Linked DNA regions of Homo sapiens: region 2 is linked to region 1. Evidence: fine-mapped expression QTL. A gene starts in region 1. The other region holds a variant in brackets. All regions are shown on one strand. Distances are from middle to middle. Region 1 holds the start of NUBP1 (NUBP iron-sulfur cluster assembly factor 1, cytosolic). Region 2 overlaps NUBP1 (NUBP iron-sulfur cluster assembly factor 1, cytosolic).

Region 1 (10,556 bases):
TTTTTTAGGCATGACCATGTGACTTTTTTTTTTTTTTGCGACAGAGTTTTGCTCTTGTTGCCCAGGCTGGAGTGCAGTGGTGTGATTTCGGGTCACTGCAACCTCTGCCTCCCAGGTTCAAGCAATTCTCTTGCCTCAGCCTCCCAAGTAGCTGGGATTACAGGCATGCGCCTCTGTACCTGGCTAATTTTTGGTATTTTTAGTAGAGACGGAGTTTCACACTATTAGTCATGCTGGTCTTGAACTCCTGACCTCTAGTGATCCAACCGCCTCGGCCTCCCAAAGTGCTGGGTTACAGGCATGAGTCATCACGCCCAACCTTTTTTTTTTTTTTCTGAGACAGAGTCTCATTCTGTCACTCAGGCTGGAGTGCAGTGGCACAATCTTGGCTCACTGCAACCTCTGCCTCCCGGGTTCATGCAATTCTCCTGCCTCAGCCTCCTGAGTAGCTGGGATTATAGGCGCACACCACCACACCCAGCTAATTTTTTGTGTATTTTTAGTAGAGACAGGGTTTCGCTATGTTGGCCAGACTGGTCTTGAACACCTGACCTGGTGATCCACCCGCCTCGGCCTCCCAAAGTGCTGGGATTACAGGCGTGAGCCATCGCGCCTGGCCTTTTTTTTTTTTTTTTTTTTTTTTTTAGACAAGGTGTCACTCTGCTGCCCAGGCTGGAGGGCAGTACTGTGATAACAGCTCATTGCAGCCTCCAACTCCAGCAATCGTCCTGCCTCGGCCTCCCAAGTAGCTGGGACTACAGGCATGCACCACCTTGCCCAGTTAATTTTTAAATTTTTTGTAGAGACAGGGTCTCACTATGCTGTTCTCCAACTCCTGGCCTCAAGCAATCCTCCTGCCTTGGCCTCCTAAAATGCTGGGATTACAGGTGTGAGCCACTGCACCTGACGTGTGTGACTAATTGTAGCCAATGAAAAGTGGGCAGATAGGTGTCATTTCTAGTGGAAGCATTTCAGAATCAGGGTACAATTCCCCTGGCTTGTGTCCTCTGTGTTCAAAAGGGGCCACAGGAGACGGTGGAGCTTCAGTCTGTGTCCCTGAGGAACCACAGGGAGCAGGAACCTCTGTCCATGAAGTTACATATGGAGCAAATGCCAAAATAAACTTGATTGCCTTGAGCCACTTCAGTTTGGGGATGTCTGTTTTGGCAGCGCAGACTAGCCTATCCTGGCTGAAACAGACACTGTTGCAGGACCAGGAGGAGGAGGGGGCCTGAGCTGAGGCAGGAGGGATGCTGGAAGGCATGGAGTGTCAGTTGTCTATAGCTACCCCAAACTCAACAGTGTCAAACCACCAGCATTTAGCTAGTTCACCAGCCTGTGCATTGGCCAGGTGGTTCTTCAGGACTCACGCATCTATGGCCAGTTGTGGGTCTGGATGGGTGGATCTGTGGGTCTGGATGTGTGGATCGGTGGGTCTGGATGGGTGGATCTGTGTGTCTGGATGTGTGGATCGGTGGGTCTGGATGGGTGGATCTGTGGGTCTGGATGGGTGGATCAGTGGGTCTGGATGGGTGGATCTGTGGGTCTGGGTGGGTGGATCTGTGGGTCTGGATGGGTGGATCTGTGGGTCTGGGTGGGTGGATCTGCAGCTCTTGGCTGGACTCTTCTCATGTGTCTTGGGCCGCTGGTTTAGGAGGCCTTCACTGAGAGCACAGGGGTGGCTCAGCTCAGTTCCAGGTGTTTCACCTCCCATGGGCGAGCCCAGACCTTCTCCTAGCCTGTGTACCTTTAAGTGGCAGGGGAGCTGGAGAGGGATTAAAACAGGCAAAAGCCCCATTACAAGCTTTTTCTTGAATCACATTTGCTAAAGTAAGTCACATGCCTGAGCACAGAGTCAAGGGGTAGGATGGAACCCCCTCCCCGCACGTGGGAGGGCACTGCAAAGTTCAGCAGCCAAGGGCACAGATCCAGACAGGGAGAGAAGTGGGGTCATGTGTGCTACCAGCCTACCACCTAGGGGTGCAGCTGCTGACCTGATGTCTGATTGGATGCAGGGGGTGCTGTGGGCGTCTCTATGGACAACACTGACCCCCATCCCTGTATAGGTACGCCACCCCACTAATCAACAAGAGGAGTCTGTGTCTGTGACACTTTGACCGAGAGAACATGGTGAAAGTGACTGCCACTTCCCAGCTTTGTCATTCCCAGCTGCCATTTAAAGGGACACAGGCTAGACCACTGAAAAATGAGAGAGGGAGGCCACGAGGGGGGAATCAAGGCCAGTGTGAGAGTGAAGCCATTTGAGACCTTCCAGCCAACTCCCAGCTGAATGAAGCCACATTAAGGGAGCCCAGGTGAAACCAGAAGAGTCACAGGAAGCAATAAACCATGGTGGGTTTAAACCACTACATATTGGGGTGACTTGTCACACAGCACTTGATCACTGATGGAGATGGAGAAAACTAAACAAGGCTGATACTCAGATTTACGGCTTGAGTTCTTAGCCCAGGGGTCATGCCCTGTCCAGGTATAACAAATCCAGAGGCAGGAACCGCCTTGAGAAGAAGTTGTAGACGTTTATTTGTTACGCTTGTGGGATGTCCATGCAATAAAATCCAATAGGCACAAGGTAGGATCCACAGATCCGAACTCACGGAGCAAGAGGTGTGGGAGCTGGAGACAGAAGATGGATAGCATCAGGGCTGTCAGTTGCTTGCCCAGGAGGAAGTGGGAAGTGGGACTGGAAGTGGCCCAAGAACAGAGTCTTGGGGAGCACTCACCTTAAGAAGCGGCCCTGGCCAGGCGCGGTGGCTCACACCTGTAATCCTAGCACTTTGGTAGGCTGAGGCGGGTGGATCACCTGAGGTCAGGAGTTCGAGACCAGCCAGGCCTACATGGTAAAACCCCGTCTCTACCAAAAATACAAAAAATTAGCCAGGCGTGGTGGTGGGCACCTGTAGTCCCAGCTACTCAGGAGGCTGACACAGGAGAATTGCTTGAACCCGGGAGGTGGAGGTTGCAGTAAGCCAAGATCACACCACTGCACTCCAGCATGAGCAACAGAGTGAGATTCCATCCCACAAAAATAAAAATAAAAAGGAGAATAACTTGCATCCTGCCCTCTAATATACAGTATAGTGATTAATAGCAAAGGCCCTGTATCAGACTTGGTTAAAAACCCAGTTCTGCTCTTTCTGCCTCTCAGACTGTGGACAAGTAAATCTTTGCAGCCATCTTATCACCTGTAAAACGGAAATGACAACAGTCCCTACCTGATAGGTGACTTCCTCTCTGCTCTCCAGGCCTTTGCTGATGCCCCATCACTCTGGTCCTCTTCTCCCGACCAGACTGTGCTCCAGATGGCAGGGTCCAGGTTAGTCTGGAATCATTGGCATCTAGCCCAGTGCTGGCTGGGACCATGTGTTACTAAGTGCAGGCTCTGCAGCCAGACAGACCAAGTTTATCACCCTGGTTCCCCTGCTACCAGTCATGCGACCTCGGGAAAGTAGTTTACTTTAAGCCTCAGTTTCCTTATCCAAAAATGGAGACAGTAGGACTATGAAAGGACATAAATTAGGTAATTCACATGAAAGCACAAAGATGACAGCTGCCAAACGGTAAGTATTCTACAAAATGCTGGCTATAATTAGTGGTAGTGACAGGCAGCTGATACACTGCTGTTTAATAAATGTTTCCGAGGCCGGGTGCGGTGGCTCATGCCTGTAATCCCAACACTTTGGGAGGCCAAGGCGGGCAGATCACGAGGTCAGGAGATCGAGACCATTCTGGCTAACATGGTGAAACCCTGTCTCTACTAAAAATACAAAAAATTAGCCGGGCGTGGTGGCCTGTAGTCTCAGCTACTCGGGTGGCTGAGGCAGGAGAATGACGTGAACCCAGAAGGCGGAGCTTGCAGTGAGCCGAGATCCCACCACTGCACTCCAGCCTGGGTGACAGAGCGAGAATCCGCCTCAAAAATAAATAAATAAATAAACGTTTCCATATTCTTAGTGTCTGGGGCTAGGTAAAGTTTGTTCACTCATTAATATTCCAGGTGCCAAACCTGTGAGCAATGACACTCCAGTAGCAATGAGCATTTGTGGCATCCACATCTTGGTTTCTGAACTGTTGTCTGCTAAAAAGTAACCAAGGCTCCCTGAAGAAATGACTGCAGCAGGGAGAAGGGATGACTGAAACATCTTGTATCAGAAAGCAAGAAAATGCTCAAAGAAGCTGGATTAGTGCCCAAAGAACATAAGAACTGTCTTGAAGGGGCTTCACTGGCCACATCTGGGGGAAAAAAAATCGACCAGAAAGAATAATAATTGATTATAAAAGACAATTTTAAAAAATCCAGGAATCCATAGTGAGTCTTCGAAAAAAAAGAAAAAAAGAGAGGGTATAAAACTGATATATATTTATCATATATATAATCTATAGTTTTATATATATATATATAAATGCTGCTAAAATCACTGAGTGAAAGGCTGATAGAGAAGAAGATGGTCCCAGAGAGTACCTGTTAATTACAAATGGAAGAAGGAAACATTAAATGGAGAAATGGGGCAGACACCACCTTTAGCAAGCGATCAAGCTTCACATTACCAAAAACGGGACAAACTGACATTATCCAAGTGTGTTCTGCAGGAAAAAAGAAAAATTAACCTTTATCTAATTACAAGGCAAGAGGGAGGGGAGGATTAGACAAATCAAGAATATGGGATATTCTATTACACAACTGGTCTGGACCCGTCAAAATTATCAAGGTGATGAGACCCCCCCTAAAAAAAGAAGGACTGATCTGAATTAAAGGAGACCGAAGAGAAATAACTCCAGGCAGTGAGTGAATCCAGCAGGGGAGGGGGTCTAACAACTGAAATTGAAATATAAACTGTCTATTGGCTAATACTGCATTGGCTAGTACTGCATCGATATTAAATCTCTTGGGTATGAAAATGGCACTGATGTCATGAAGAATGGCTTTGTTCTTAGGAGATGCACTGCAGAAGTATTTATGATAGGAAATCTCTGAAAAGGAACAGACGTTGAGTCCCAGTCTTTCGGCCCAAGGTTCGCGCGTGCGCACAGCCCCCTTTCCGAGACTTATTTCGCGCGGTCGGAGAATCAGATTGTGCCCACAAGGCGGAAATGTACGACAGCGGGTTCCGGTGACCACGAAGGCGGCAAAGGCGACGGAATGGAGGAGGTGCCTCACGGTAAGCTCGCGGAGGGGGCGTGGGTCGCGGGGCGAAAGTGTCGGGAGCTGCTCTAACTGTGGTCTTGTCTCTGCGCAGACTGTCCAGGGGCCGACAGCGCCCAGGCGGGCAGAGGGGCTTCATGTCAGGGATGCCCCAACCAGCGGCTGTGCGCTTCTGGAGCGGGGGCCACTCCGGACACGGGTGAGAAAAGGGCAAGGCCTCAACAGGAACTTAGAGGCGCAGGCCCGGAAAAGGCGGGGCGTGGGAGGGAGGGGGCGGGATCTGCAGAATGACTGACAGCGGCAGGCTAGAAGGTATTGTATTCGGAGAGGGGTGGGGCCCAGAAGGGGCGGGGCGTGGAAAGTGGGCAGGGTGAGGGCGGAGCTTGGAATGACTGACAGGAACGAGGCCTTTAGAAGGCGAGCGCGAAGGACCTGGCGCGGATGGAGGGTGGAGACTGACCGGCGCGGAGTCGAAAGGGACATTAATTAAGAGGGTCGGGGCCAGAGGTTTGAGTGACAATAACAGACCGCAGAGAAAAACGGGATAAGCTTCGAAGTCGGGGAGTCTTCGGACTTACATCCTGGCTCTGCCAGCTACTTTCTTGACACAATTTTCTTCCTTTTGAGGAGTGATTCTCCCACTCATTCAGCAGAAATGTGTTGATCGCCTCGTAGGTTTGGTGCTGTCCTGGGGACACAGCTGGGGATCAGGCGTGGTCACTGCTCTAGTGGAGTTTAGCTTTACTGGGGAAACAAACACGTGAGCTAGCAACTAAACCACCGCAGCTTTAAGTGCTGTGAAGCACAGATTCCAGGATGAGAGGACCCAGGGAGCCTGCTCAGAAGGACCTTAAAAAGCAGGAGGCAGGAGGACAATATTTTTTTTTCTTTTTTTTCCCCCTTTTTTTTTAGACAGAGTCTTGCTGTGTAGCCCAGACCAGAGTGCAGTGGTGTGATCTCGGCTCACTGCAACTTTCACCTCTCAGGTTCAAGCGATTCTCGTGCCTCAGTCTCCCGAGTACCTGGGACTACAGGCGCCTGCCACCACGGCTGGCTAATTTTTATATTTTTAGTAGAACCAGAGTTTCACCATGTTGACCAGGTTGGTCTCGAACTCCTGACCTCAAGTGATGCATCTGCCTGGGCCTCCCAAAGTGCTGGGATTACAGGCATGAGCCACTGCACCTGGCCAAGGGGGAGAATCTTGAAGGAGTTCAGAGAGAGACTTGGATTTGATTCTTGGATCCATGCGGTGTGACCTTCAGCAATAGTCCTAACCTCTCTGAGCTTCTGGTTCCTCATCAAAAATGGAGACAGGCCGGGTGCAGTGGCTCACGCCTGTAATCCCAGCACTTTGGGAGGCCGAGGCGGGTGGATGGATCACTTGAGGTCAGGAGTTCGAGACCAGCCTGGCCAACATGGTGAAACCTGTCTCTACTAAAAATACAAAAATTAGCCAGCATGGTGGTGCATGCCCGCCCTCGAGGCTGAGGTGGGAGGATCACTTGAACCCGGGAGGTGGAGGTTGCAGTGAGCTGAGATCGTGCCACTGCACTCCAGCCTGGGTGACAGAGTGAGACCCTGTCTCAAAGAAAAAAAAAAATGAAGAGAAAAATAGTTATCTCTGTCAATGCAATGGAGAGACTGAACTGAGCCTCAGTGGAGGTTTATTGGGCCAGAGCTTGAGGGCGTGCCCTGGAAAATACAAGTGACAGAAACATCTGTGGCCTGTGCTCGATGGAGTGGTTCCAGAAGGCTGGTGTTTATATATTTCATTAAAAGGGGAAAAAGCATGCAGGAAAAAGTGCAGTAGGCCTCGTGGCAGGTAGTTACATTCTTGTGAGGTTTTAATTCGTGCCCAGTATATCTACACTATTCAGAAAATAAAGTAAACATTCAAAAGAGGGAATAAAGGAAGAATTAATTAGGCAGACGTCTCAGGGTAGGAGAGGAAGGACTATCTCATCCCATCTTTGTTTGGCATGTGGGAGGATAAGCTTGTAATGGACATGGTCAGTGTGGCGTTTAACAGACATCAGTAATAGGGAAGGAGTTAGACTGAGGTTACAGTCCTAAAGTTACAGTTGGCATGTCCTTGTTTATGGGAGGATACTCATCTTCAAAGATTTAGGGGCCAGCAAAGGAGTTCCTTAGGAGCAACTTGTGAGGGCAGTCATCCCACAATGGATTGCATGGGGCCTTTGGCCTTTTGCAGGTGTCTGGTTAATGTAGAATGCTTTGACACAAGGTTGGGAAGTAACAGCTGTCTGTTGATGGGGAGGAGGACAGCAGTGTTGGGAGGTTTCCAGGCTTAACTTTCACTTGAGTTTGGCCAGTCATGAGACTTTTTAATTTCCTTTATACCTCGTGTATTGTTTTAAGGATTTGAAATAAGATAGTTTCATTGGCAGATACTTAGTATGTGCCTGCTGTCTATCAGAGTTTCTCAACCTCAGCACTGCTGACATTTGGGGCAGGATCACTCTTTGTTGTGGGGGGCTGTCCTGTGCATTGTAGGACATTTAGCACAATCTGGGCTGTACCCATTAAATGCCAGCAGTACCTCTCCTGTGACAATGAAAAGTGTCTCCAGGCTGAGCATGGTGGCTCACACCTGTAATTCCAACACTTTGGGAGGCCAAGGTGGGTGGATCACTTGAGGTTGGAAGTTCGAGACTAGCCTGGCCAACATAGAGAAACACCGTCTCTATTAAAAATACAAAAATTAGCCAGGCATGGTGGCAGGCACCTGTAATCCCAGCTACTTGGGAGGCTAAGGCAGGAGAATCGCTTGAACCCAGGAGGCAGTGTTGCAGTGAGCCGAGATCACGCCACTGCACTCCATCCTGGGCGACAGAGCAACACTCTGTCTCAAAAAAAAAAGAAAGAAAGAACAGTGTCTCCAGACATTACCAAATGTCTCTGGGGGATTTTGTCCCCAAGTTGGTGACCATTGCTGTTTGCAAAGTTCTCTTCTGGAGCTGGGAATACAGCACTGAAAGCTTCAGACAGTTCCTACCTTTGTGGAGACTATGTTCTAGTTGGGGGAGACAAACGTGTAAACCAATAAATGAGACCCCTTCAAGTGTGATAATAGCCTTATTTTCTTCCTAGCACTTATTTCTACCATTGTCTGAGAGGTATTTCAGAGGATCGTTTTAAACAGCCCCAGGACTAGTACTAGGACTAGGACTTAGCTCTTTCTAGTTGACTGGAAGCGTGACATTCGAGGTTTGGTGTGGGACCTCATCCCCTGAACTTTGGTTTTCTTTGCAGCTATAGAGGAAATCAAAGAGAAAATGAAGACTGTAAAACACAAAATCTTGGTATTGTCTGGGAAAGGCGGTGTTGGGAAAAGCACATTCAGCGCCCACCTTGCCCATGGCCTAGCAGAGGATGAAAACACACAGGTGAGACCTCAGGAACCACTGGGAGATGCTCATTTTGTCTGAGGGTCGTGATGGCTACTAAATAACTGATTCCTAGGCCAGGCGCAGTGGTTCATGCCTGTAATCCCAGCACTTTGGGAGGCCAAGGCGGGCAGATCACTTGAGGCCAGGAGTTTGAGATCAGCCTGGCCAACATGGCAAAACCTTGTCTCTACTAAAAATACAAAATATTAGCTGGGCGTGGTAGCGCAGGCTTGTAATCCCAGCTTTTCGCGAGGATGAGCCATGAGAATCGCTTGAGCCCAGGAGGCAGAGGTTGCAGTGAGTCAAGATTGTACCAGTGTACTCCAGCCTGGGTGGCAGAATGAGACTGTCCAAGAAGAAAAAAAAATGATTCCTTATACTAAGTTGAATTGGCCTCTTTGGAATCTCAATCCGGCAGAGAGCAAAGAAATGCCCAGTAGTCAAATGAAGCATTTCACTGGATTCCCTAGCCAAGAAAATGGCTAGCAGATGTACATCTGTCCTTGCATGTGGATAGTTTATTACATTACGTTCACGCTTCTTTTTCCTCTTTATTAACCCCTTTTAGCTTTTCTCTAAGCCAGGGACCTGCAAACTATAGCCAGTGGGCCAAATCCAGCCCATCTCCTGCCTTATGGCCTTTGAACTAAGAATGTTCACATTTTTGAAATGTTTTTTGTTTGTTTGAGACAGGATCTCACTCTGTCACCCAGGCTGAAGTGCATTGCTATGATCAGGACTCATTGCAACCTCTACTTCCTGGGCTCATCAAGCTATCCTCCCACCTCAGCCTCTCAAGTACCTGGGACTACAGGTGCTTGCCACCATGCCCGGCTAATTTTTGGGTTTTTTGTAGAGATGAGGTTTTGCCATGTTGCCCAGGCTAGTCTTGAACTTCTGAACTCAAGGCGTCCCCCTGCCTCGGCCTCCCAAAGTGCTGAGATTATAGGCATGAGCCACCGTGCCTGGCCTAAAATTGCAATTTTTAAATTAGTACCTAAGTACCTACATATGATCCTTGATTTTGCCCACAAAGCCTAATAATATATTTGCTGTTGGCCCTTGTGGAAAATTTTTGCTGGCCCTTACACGAGTTTATTCATTTCCACCCATGCATACAGACGAGCATGAAAACTCAGATTACCCACTGCTGCCCTCTGGATCTCAACTTTAATAAAAGGGGTTGGTGGGTCGCTAAGAGCACACACTCTGGAGTCAGACAGCCCAAACTCAGGTCCCAGCTCCATCTACACCACTGCTGTGACCTTGGGCAAGTTACCAGGCTTACTCTGCCTCCGTTTTCTCATCTATAAAATGGGACTCCAAGGACTGAGTGAGATGGCACAGTAAAGCACTTAGCACGGGGCCCGACGAATAGTCAATGCTCAGTAAAGGTCTGTGATGGCCACCATTTTTATTACTTTATTTCACTCTCTGGATATGAAGGGATGATGATTACATCTGCCTTAGAGATGAGTTTGTAGCCTACCCAAGGTATAGTACTGGGCAGATTCAAAATACACTTGTTGGGCAGGGCATGGTGGCTTACACTGTAATCACAGCACTTTGGGAGGCTGAGGCAGGCGGATCACTTGAGGTCAGGAGTTTGAGACCAGCCTGGCCAACATGGTGAAACCCTGTCTCCACTAAAAAATACAAAAATTAGCTGGGCATGGTGGTACGTGCCTGTAGTCTTAGCTACTCGGGAGGCCGAGGCATGAGAATCGTTTGAACCCAGGAGGCGGAGGTCGCGGTGGGCCAAGATTGCCCTACTGCACTCCAGCCTGGGTGACAGACAAGACTCCATTTAAAAAAAAAAAAGGATATAGATAGATACACAGACACATACACACACACACACACACACACACACACACACACACACACACACGTTGATTCGTCATTCTGTGAGTCAGCGATCTCTTGCCATTTGAGGGTCAAATCTGTACTGGCCTAGTGGGCTGGCCAAGAAATCTGCTTTC
Region 2 (10,556 bases), 23 kb after region 1:
CCCTGTCATTTTGGGAAGTGGAATCACAATTAAAATCCCTTTCTGCTGACTAAAGGAAAGTTCTTTAGGTGTTAAGGGTTCCACATTCAAACTAAGCCTTTTTTTTTTTTTTAAGTTTCTTTAAAATGTGGTCCATCCTTGTGATTCTGCAAAAAAATTATGTTTCCTCCCCTTTGAATTTGCCTTGCAGAAAGAATCTCAGATATTCCCTCCCACAACCGGGGGCGCGGAGCTCATGTGCCAGGACTTGGAGGTCCCTCTCCTCGGCAGAGTGCCCCTGGATCCGCTCATAGGTGGGTGACCCCAGTGTGGGGCGGCACCTCACTCCTCGGTCAGCCCCACAGGCACGGGTCGGGCACAACAGGGGGCGGCTACAGAGAGGGGCAATGGAAGGAGGAGGGTCAATGGGGCGCTGGAGCCAGACCCACCCTCCAGCTGGCACCCCAAGAGGCCACCGGGAGAGAGGCCGAGACCCCTGCGGGCAGGTAGCGGGAGCAAGCAGGCCTCAGGCAGAGGGGTGAGGCCTGGAAGAATGGGGTAGAGGTTGGTGAGGGTGGTGGTGGCAGGGGACTGAGGAGGGCACCCGATAGAGGGGCGGCTCCAGGGGATGCACATGGCGTCCAGGTTACAGAGGAAGGCGGCCTGAGGTGAAAATCCCTTAGGAAGGGGCCGGGCCTCCTGTGCCCGGAGAAGCCAGCACGGCACAGATGAGGCCCCTTTGTCTCCAGCACCGGGACAGACCGGAACGCGGATCACTGGCCTGCGAGCAGGGGCCAAGTTCCCAAAAAATGCTCTTCTTAAGTACGTGGGTCTCCCAGGATCCCAAGAGATGCCCACTCCCTGAGTGGCCCTGAGGCTGAAGGAGGGACGGGGTTTCACGTCTCCACCCACACGCCCGCCGGGCGCCCACTCGCCGCGGGGCGCTGGGCAGGGCCTACACTCGAAGCTGCTCCCCCAGGAGGCTGCTGTCCCCCAGGACCGCGGAGCCGGGCGGGCCTCCGTTACTGGGGCCCTTTAGTGGGGCTCCTGCGGGGCGTCCAGCACTCGCCTTTAGGTCTGAGGGGAGAACAGAGAGAGAAGGCTGGAGGGGAGGCCGGGATCCAGGAGTGCCGGCTGCACCCATGCCTCGGAACTTCCACTCCATTTGTCAGGGAACCAAGGCCAGTGTGAGGTGTCTGTGCCGGGACAGGAGAGAGGGGCCGGGCGGGTGAAGTATGGCCTGGCCAGGAGAGGGTGGGGGCCGCGTGCTTGGGGAGAGGGCGGGGCCCGTGGAGAGCCTGGAGGCGGGGAGGGCGGAGGCCACGTGGGGAGCCTTGGGGAAGGGCTGCATGGGGAGAATGGGAGCCTGTGGGAAACGACTGTCAGTGTCATGTGCCTGGGAACAGGAGGCTCAGGAGTGGCTGCCCTGGGATAGGGGTTCAGGATGAGGCCCTGGGTTCTGGCGTTGGTGTAGAAAGGAAGGGACACACACAAGAGAGAAAGTGACGGCATCTGAGGGTCAAGGTTGTCCCTGCTGCCAGTACAAGTCACCTGGAGGAGGGTCCGTCCCTCAGAGACAGTGAAGCAGGGGTGGTAGAGGGAGGCCGGGCCCTCTGGGGTGCTGCGGCTAAGGGGCTCGGGGGCTCAGGTTGTCAGCAGGTTCTGGGGTCCGTCAGGAGAAGGTGGTTCATGTCCGTGCAGTTGAGTTTTGAAGCCACAGGACATGGACAGGATTGCCAAGGGGCCGTGCAGAAAGCGGGAGCCAGGAGGACAGTGTTGGGGGATGGCTGCCTCGAGGAAGTGGTAGGGGGGTAGGGTGCGAGGGCCACTCTGAAGATGGGAACAGCCCGGGAGAACGCCAGAGACCCCATGTGCCCAGGAGGCTGTGTCCCCAAATCCTTTTTCCCTTATTCCCACATCCCACAATACTTCTCTGGCATGTGATTTCCCCAACAACATGCAGAAAAGTACAGCTGCTTTCTCAACCTTCCCCAGCATCATAAAACACTCACCAGGCAGCTTTTGCAGTGGCCGGAAGTGGTGATGAGAGCTGCCCTCTGAGGCCCCTGGAGGCAGTTGGGCTGCATGAATGGATGTGATTGGGGACAGGAGCTTGCAGCAGCCCAGGGCACATCCATTCCTGCCAGCCTGCACCTCTGCCACAGTTCAGCTCTGCCGAGATGGGATTGGTGGGCAGGACGTTTGTCAGGGGAAACATCTGTGGGAGAAAATGACAAGGGAGAGCGTTAGCCCACGATGAAGGAGTGGGGGAAGGAACATATCAGCCCGAAAGAGCATCACGGCCCATAGGAGTATCTCAGCCCCTGGAAGCATCTCAGCCCAAGGGAGCATCCCAGCCCTCAAGAGCATCTCAGCCCATGGGAGCATCCCAGCCCAAGGGAGTATCTCAGCCCACAGGAGTATCTCAGGCCACGGGAGCATCCCAACTCAAAGGAGCATCTCAGCCCACAGGAGTACCTCAGCCCATGGGAGCATCCCAGCCCAAAGGAGCATCTCAGCCCACTGGAGCATCCCAGCCCAAGGGAGTATCTCAGCCCACAGGAGTATCTCAGCCCACGGGAGCATCCCAACTCAAAGGAGCATCTCAGCCCACAGGAGTATCTCAGCCCACGGGAGCATCCCAGCCCGAAGGAGCGTCTCAGCCCACTGGAGCATCTCAGCCCATGGGAGCATCTTAGCCTGCTGGAGCACCTCAGTGTACTTTGCTTTTTGGCATCTCAGTCTGCTGGAGTATTTGTCTATTGGAGCATCTCAGTCTGCTGGAGTGTGGCAGTCTATTGGAGCATCTCAGTCTGCTGGAGTATGCCAGTCTGTTGGAGCATCTCAGTCTGCTGGAGTATTTGTCTATTGGAGAATCTCAGTCTGCTGGAGTATGCCAGTGTGTTGGAGCATCTCAGTCTGCTGGAGTATGTCAGTCTATTGGAGCATCTCAGTCTGCTGGAGTATTTGTCTATTGGAGCATCTCATTCTGCTGGAGTATTTGTCTATTGGAGCATCTCAGTCTGCTGGAGTATGTCAGTCTATTGGAGCATCTCAGTCTGCTGGAGTATGTCAGTCTATTGGAGCATCTCAGTCTGCTGGAGTATGTCAGTCTATTGGAGCATCTCAGTCTGCTGGAGTAGGTCTATTGGAGCATCTCAGTCTGCTGGAGTATGTCAGTCTGTTGGAGCATCTCAGTCTGCTGGAGTATGTCAGTCTGTTGGAGCATCTCAGTCTGCTGGAGTATGTCAGTCTGTTGGAGCATCTCAGTCTGCTGGAGTATGTCAGTCTGTTGGAGCATCTGTCTGCTGGAGTATGTCAGTCTGTTGGAGCATCTCAGTCTGCTGGAGTATGTCAGTCTGTTGGAGCATCTGTCTGCTGGAGTGTCTTGGCTGCTGTCGAGGAAAGCTGGGCACAGCCACCAGGGCATTCCTGAGCCCACTTACCCATCAGAGGGGCTGCATCTCCCAGAAGCGTGCCTGCCCGAGTGCCATGCTCGTCTCAGTCACTAGCTAGGAGCAGCCTGGGAGTGGCATTGCCTCAACACAAACGTGGTGGTGGATTTTGGAGCATGGCAGCTGCTGCCAGAGATCCAAGAGGTGTGTCCTTATGGCCATCACAATTGCCACATTTTCCAAGGTTTAATGAAGAGCTAGAAATCTATATCCTTACCCAAAGTCTCCTGATACTAAATGATAGCAACTAACTCCATTAAATACACACACACACACACACACAACCATGCTCTAGCCTGGGTAACACAGGAAGATACCTCATCTCTTAAAAAAAAAAAAAAAAAAAAAAGGAAAAAATTCACCCAGTGTGGTGGCATGTGCCTGTGGTCCCAGCTACTCAGGAGGCTGAGTTAGCAGGATCACTTGAGCCCAGGGAGGTTGAGGTTGCAGTGAGCCATGATCACACCACTGCACTCCAGCCTGGGCGACAGAGCAAGAACCTGTCTCAAAAAAAAATTTAAAAATGGCATGCTTGCTGACCCACCCAAATATGTCCACGGGCCCAGCCACAGGCCTGCCCTTGCCATTGTCTGACAGATCAGGAAGTGACCTTGGGGCTATTAGATCCTGATACGGCTTTTCTTCCAAAGAGCCAGCAACCTCCATCTTCCCACCTCCCTCACACCAAGCCCTGGCATTGGCCCTGGTCTTTCCTTTCAGGGCCACTTTTCACAAAGAAACAAAGTTCCAGGTGGTTCACAAGAGCTAATTTCAAAGCAGAGGAGCCACCAGTGACAGCTGCGAGGCTCATTCTGAGCTGAGAACATTAAGTGCCTTCTAGT[G/A]GGCATGGTCCTGTGTGTCAAATGGCACATTGCAGAAGCTCACCTTGAGGGGAAGCCACAGATAGCAAGGCCAGGGAGTGCCAGAAAGGAAGGGGTGGTTAACACTGTCACCCACCCAAGAGGGTGGAGCATGAGGGCCAAGTGACAGACACGCATCTGGCAAGGTCACTGGGGACAGAGTGGGGGAAAACCCACCTTCCTAGGAACAGACAGGAAGGCATGAGGACAGCACTTCAGTCTCCTCTGGGGACATGGTGGCAAAGAGTTACAGATGCCAGCGCTCTGGTGCTATGGGTCCTGGTCCCGGTGTGCTGAGGATCACAGGAAGGGCTGGCCTCAGAGCCCTGCTCCGCCACCACTAGCTGTGGGACTTGGGCTAGTCATTTCCGCTCTCAGCCTCGATGGCCCCGTGTGTAAAATGCAGGTGACAGTGGTGCCTAGTGAGAGGGATCTGCCAGGGTGGGGTGAGAGGATGCCTGGGATCTCTTGGAACAGGGCTGTGCTCACACCAGCTGTTCTGATAATGCTGCCCGTTCTTGGAGAGGTGGGAGCCCAGGGGGAAATGCAGTTAGGAAGGGAAAACACTAGAGCATATATGTGTGTTGGGGGCTGGGGAGCCCTCTGGGGAAGGGAGACCTGGGTGAAAGTCAGGGACAGAAAGTAGCCCCAGCATGACTATTCTGGGATCCCCAACCTCCCAGGTCTGGCCCAGCGAACGTGCACTCAGGGGCCTCCCTAGCGAGTTCCACATGGTCTCATGGGCCCAGCGTTAACGGCGGAGGATGTCCAGGTTCTTGGTGTCTGGAACAAAAAATTGGACAAAACGCACAAAGAAAGGAAGGAAGGAAGGGATTTATTGAAAATGAAAGTCAACTCCACGGTGTGGGAGGAGAACGGGCCTGAGAATAGGGGCTCAAAGGCCCCATTACAGAGTTTTTGTGTTTAAATACCCTCTACTTGAGGTACGCCCTATATAAACGAAAAGGATGAAGTAAAGTTACAAAGTCATTTACGGCATACGTCCTATGGAGAGGACATTTCCTGTTATGGCTCAAGTGCGAATTGGCCTTATGTTCCCTGCCTCTGGACCCTATTTTCCTGACTCACTGGGCCATATGGGCTCCCCATCTCCCACCAACCCCTCCCCACAGGCTTCTTCCCCGACTTGGACTTCCCTGTCCCACAGGGCGACACAGTAGTGAAGTTGAGGAAATGATGAGTGCTAGGTAGGAACCCCTCCTGGGGTTCACCTGAGGCTGGTGACCGGCCATGGGCAGTGCAGTCACTTGCCTGTTTCGCCAGCAGCTCAGGCCTGGGGAGTGGGCAGAGCAAGCTGATGGCAGGTCCACCCACGACTGGGGGCTGGCAGGGCAGACTGGAGGCGAGAACACCCCCATTGACCCCTAGCCCCTTGTGTCCTGTCCACCTGGCTCTGGGATAACATGGTCCTAGAGAAACCTGGGTGTGCATAGGAGGGGACTGGAACAATGGCCACATGGCGGGGAAAGACTAGCAGACTGATAGACACCAGCACAGATGACCTGGAAGATAAAATTATACACAGACAAAGCAGCAGGCAGAATGTGTGTGTCATGTGCTCCCATTCGTATTTTAGGTATATGAGAGTGTGTGTATGTGTGTGCGCACACATGCAAGTGTGCACATTTATATGCGCATAATCTTTCTGGAAAGACACCTAGAACACTAGTAGCCCTTTTCGGACTTGGCCTTTTATGCCATATCCTTTTGCATTCTGTACTTTTTTTAACCATGTGCATTCATGATCCTTTCACTCAAAAGCTAATCTCTTAAAATGCAGACTCCTGGGCCCATGTGGAAGCTGCTGAATCAGTTCTCTGTAGGGCCCTGGAACCTGCATTTTCTGTACACCACCTGATTATTTAGCCACGCTGAAATGCTGGCTGGGGACCCTGCTGGAAGGAAGGTCCCTGAGACCCCACTGGTCTTTTCTACTTTGTTCTTCATTACGAGTGAAGCGGGCTCAAGATCTTCCCATTGTCACCAGCACGGAAAGAGCCCCAAGATCTTGTGGCCATTCTGTTTTCCTCTTGGACTGAATTGTCTTCCGTTTGTTTCTTTTTTAAGGTAAGAATTGTGACAAAGGCCAGTCTTTTTTCATTGACGCCCCAGATTCCCCAGCCACGTTAGCCTACAGAAGTATAATTCAGAGTAAGTATTTCCATGAGTACTAAATGCAGATGCCTGTGGGGCAGGAAGCAACATAAAGGAGCCAGGGGTGTGGAAGGACAGGTGGGTGGTGGGGTCTGTGATGACCACAGAGTGGCCCCCATAGCCGAGGAAGCCAGGAGTCCATGAGAAATCTCTCAATGTGTGAGTATTGTGAATTAATTCATAGTTTAAAAAACATGGTGAGGGTGAAATTTATGGCTTAGGAAATACATCCCAATAAAGGGATAAAGTAATTCATTTTTAAAAGTAACTGATAAAAAAAAAAAAGGCCAGGTGCAGTGGCTCACACCTGGAATCCCAGCACTTTGGGTGAAGGAGGCAGGCAGATCACTTGAGGCTGGTCAGGAGTTCAAGACCAGCCTGGCTAACATGGAGAAACACTGTCTCTACTAAAAATATGAAAATTAGCCGGGTGTGGTGGCGCATGCCTGTAGTCCCAGCTACTCAGGAGGCTGAGGCAGGAGAATCGCTTGAACCTGGGAGGCGGAGGCTGCAGTAAGGCGAGATCGCGCCACTGCACTCCAGCCTGGGCAACAGCGTGAGACCGTGTCTCAAAAAAATAAAAAATAAAAATAAAAACTTTGTTGAGCCAGACCAAACCCACGTGCAGGCCACATTCAGCCAGTGGCAGCCATCAGAGGCCCCAGAGTTAGGGCAGAGGTGTCAGTGTTTGTTAAAGCTGTGGTCTCTGAGTTTGTGGCTGGGTTTTACTTGCCTAGAAGAATGATGTCAAGGGTAAGGAAACAGCATTCCCAGAATCCTCCATCTATAGATGGTCCGAGGAAGGCCGCAGCCACTGGTTATGAGCAAGATGGGTAGTGTGAGGTATTCCGGTCACTTTCAAAGACTCAGGGCATCACAGACACAGGTCTTTTTATGGAACTAGCCAGAGGATTCCACCCCTGTCAAAACACAGCCCTCCCCAGCACAGGACAGGGCTGTCAAGGGGTAGACAAGCCATTAGCACTCTATGCCTGTCGTCTTGTTTTCCAGGAATCCAAGAGTTTTGTAATCTCCATCAGTCAAAAGAAGAGAACCTCATCAGTTCCTGAAACGAGAGAATGTTCAGGACCAAGCAGTTACCGAGCGAGGCACTCACTGGGCAGCACATCCAGCCAGACCCGACCAGCTCCGGGATGGGGTGGGTCACAGCAAAAGGACCAGATGCTGGTGTGGTCCGAAGCCACTTTCTCAGAGACACTTTAATCATTGAGTATTTGTACACTTTTCTTTAGAACATATATAAAGGGCATTCTCTACAAATGTGCCGTTTTAAGAATAAAACCCCCTCAAATCTCTCCCCCGAGGCCTGTTTCACGTAAAAAACAAATGGGTTGTGGGATCGTGGGATTCTGCTGTGTCGGAAGCTTAGTCGATTGTAGAAACTCCCGTTTAAGCCATTTCTGCCTGTGAAGATAAGAAAGCCTAGAAAAGAACCAAAGGGGTGAGTGTGCGGCTTCACTGCAGAACACACAGGCTTGTTTTCAAACACCACAGTCCAAACGCTTTTCTTCAGATTGAGGAAAAATCTAAAAGCAACAGAGCTCAGGCTGGGCTTCGTTCTAAAATCACTGCATATGACACAGCTGGGTCAAATCAAAAAGCCCTTGAAGAGTCCTTGAATCACCCAGTAAGACAGAATGTGGGGTCTGTGTAAATTCCCTGTGTAGTAATATGTGCACAGTATATCCAGTAATGTCCAGTGTCATGCAAACCAACTTTCAGGTTTTTTAATTATATAAAAAAGAGGGACAGATGTAAACTCTACGATCATCCTCTTTGCCATGAGGTGCTTGCTCTGTTTGAGACACACAGGATCTGAGACCACGTGGGAGAAGAGTAAATTCCTGTTTTCCCTCCACTCTGGGGCATAAAAGTGGGTGGGTGGGAAACAAGAACAAATCCCCTTGTTCTTTCCCTCCCTTGTCTCTTCCCTCCCCGCCCTTCCCTAGGACCATACATATGATCAGATTTGCACATGTTCAGTGTGAGGAAGGTGTGACCTCGCCCCCCGACCCCCAGCTCCTCACGCCAAGAGCAATGAGGCTGCAAAGCCCAGGGCAGGCCCATTGCCCAGTCTGCTTCCTGCCTGGTCACATGCCTGGCCACCCCAGGGAACAGGGGAAGCCCACCCAGACCCCGGGCCCCTGTGCCCCAAGAGCTGCATTTTTCAGAATTCCCCAGTTCCTCCACACGGGTGCCATGATCCATTTCTCACCTAATGCTGGTGAATCTCCAGCCCCTCGAGGCCAGGCTTCTGAAAGTCACCTGGGCAGGCCTGCAAGGGGAAAAGTCAACCATGGTTTTCTGTCCTTACACGCGAGTGGGGCGATCCTGCTGATGGAAGGCCAGAGAAAACCCACAAAGTACAGAAAACCTGCGGAATTGGTTGCTTGATGTCTTGGCATAAAGCAGTGCTGTTCAAATTTAGGACGGTTCTACCCATTTCAGGATGAACCTGGTCAAATTTCAAAGACTTCTGTCTCTCACTTTTAGAAATATCTATTAAGTTAAAAAAAAAAAACAAAACAAAAACAAGCTGGGCACGGTAGCTCCCGCCTGTAATCCTAGCACTTTGGGAGGCCAAGGCTGGTAGATCACTTGAGGCAAGGAGTTCGAGACCAGCCTGGTCAACATGGAGAGACCCCGTCTACTATAAATACAAAAATTAGCCAGGCATGGTGTTATGCACCTGTAATCCCAGCTACTTGGGAGGCTGAGGCAGGAGAATCACTTGAACCCGGAGCCGGAGGTTGCAGTGAGCCAACACATGCCATTGCACTCCAGCCTGGGAGCAGAGTGAGACTCCCATCTCAAAAAAAAAAAAAAAAAAAAAAAAAAAATTGAAAAACCGTTTGTGACTCTTTCCTTAATTCTATACTTTTAAAAATCACTGAAAACTAACAATGGCAGTCACAAAAGGACAAAAACTATAATTGCACTTATAGGAGGTCCCTAGGGCTGTCAAACCAATAGATACAGAAAGCAGAATGCTGGTTGCTAGGGCTAGGAGGCGAGGAGGAGGGGGAGTTAGTGTTTTGTGGGTACTGAGCTTAAGTTTTGCAAGATGAAAGCAGTTCTGGAGCTGGGTGGGGTGAAGGTTGCACAATAAAGTGGTTATACTTAATGCCACAGAACTATACATTTTAAAATGGTTACAATGGTACATTTTATGTAAATCTTACAATTAAAAAACAAAACTGCCAGGCACAGTGGCTCACTCATGGCTGTAATCCCAGCACTTTGGGAGGCCAAGGCAGGCGGGCTGCTTGAGCTCAGGAGTTCTAGAGCAGCCTGGGCAACATGGCAAAACTTCGTCTCTACAAAAAAAAAAGGCCAGGCATGGTGGTACACACCTGTAGTCCCAACTGTGCCAGAGGCTGAGGTGGGAGGATCGCTTGAGCCCAAGAGATGGAGGTTGCAATAGGCCGCGATCACACCATTGCACTCTAGCCTGGGTGACAGAGCGAGATCCTGTCTCCCAAAAAATATATAAACAATAAAACATTGGCAGCCTGGCGGATATGTTACATTACAAACCGCAGTTGCCAGCAGGCCACCTTGACTTTGACTACCTGGAGAGGAGTGGTCCAAGAGTCAGACCTCAGTTACTCACCGTCTGGAACACTGTCTGGGACAGGAAACTGGCTGTGACCTTGCCAATGTCACTGTTGCCTCCCATCTTACAAAGGATGTAGCCATACAGGTTTGCAGCTTGGAGAGAGATCCCAGCAACCACCAGAGCCTGCACTCAGACAAAGAAAGCAAAGGTCACTTTTTTTTGAGACAGAGTTTCGCTCTGTCGCCCAGGCTGGGGTGCAGAGGCACGATCTCAGCTCACTGCAAGTTCCGCCTCCCGGGTTCACACCATTCTCCTGCCTCAGCCTCCCGAGTAGCTGGGACTACAGGCGTCCGCCACCAGGCCTGGCTAATTTTTTTGTATTTTTAGTAGAGACACTGTTTCACCATGTTAGCCAGGATGGTCTCCATCTGACGCAAAGGTCACTTTCTAAGAGCATTTACAGAAATGCACCTCTCAAGCCACGTAGAAATGCTCTAGCCTGCACCT

The links.
Region 2: its variant is fine-mapped to the expression of NUBP1 in whole blood (TOPMed, PIP 0.99).

Annotation. Positions count from the first base shown.
Region 1 is chr16:10,738,706-10,749,261 of GRCh38, forward strand. NUBP1 (NUBP iron-sulfur cluster assembly factor 1, cytosolic) reads left to right here and starts at 5,137. Exons shown (of 11, transcript NM_002484.4): 1 at 5,137-5,177; 2 at 5,256-5,360; 3 at 8,438-8,571. The coding sequence starts at 5,159. RefSeq lists an enhancer at 4,946-4,995.
Region 2 is chr16:10,761,567-10,772,122 of GRCh38, forward strand. NUBP1 (NUBP iron-sulfur cluster assembly factor 1, cytosolic) reads left to right here. Exons shown (of 11, transcript NM_002484.4): 9 at 191-293; 10 at 6,383-6,466; 11 at 7,481-7,785. The coding sequence ends at 7,539. It overlaps TVP23A (trans-golgi network vesicle protein 23 homolog A), which reads right to left. Exons shown (of 8, transcript NM_001079512.4): 6 at 10,104-10,232; 7 at 8,706-8,765; 8 at 5,109-7,535. The coding sequence ends at 8,706. Among named protein-coding and RNA genes, the nearest start is that of NUBP1, 23 kb to the left of the region's middle. The variant G/A (reference allele first, on the strand shown) is at 4,277.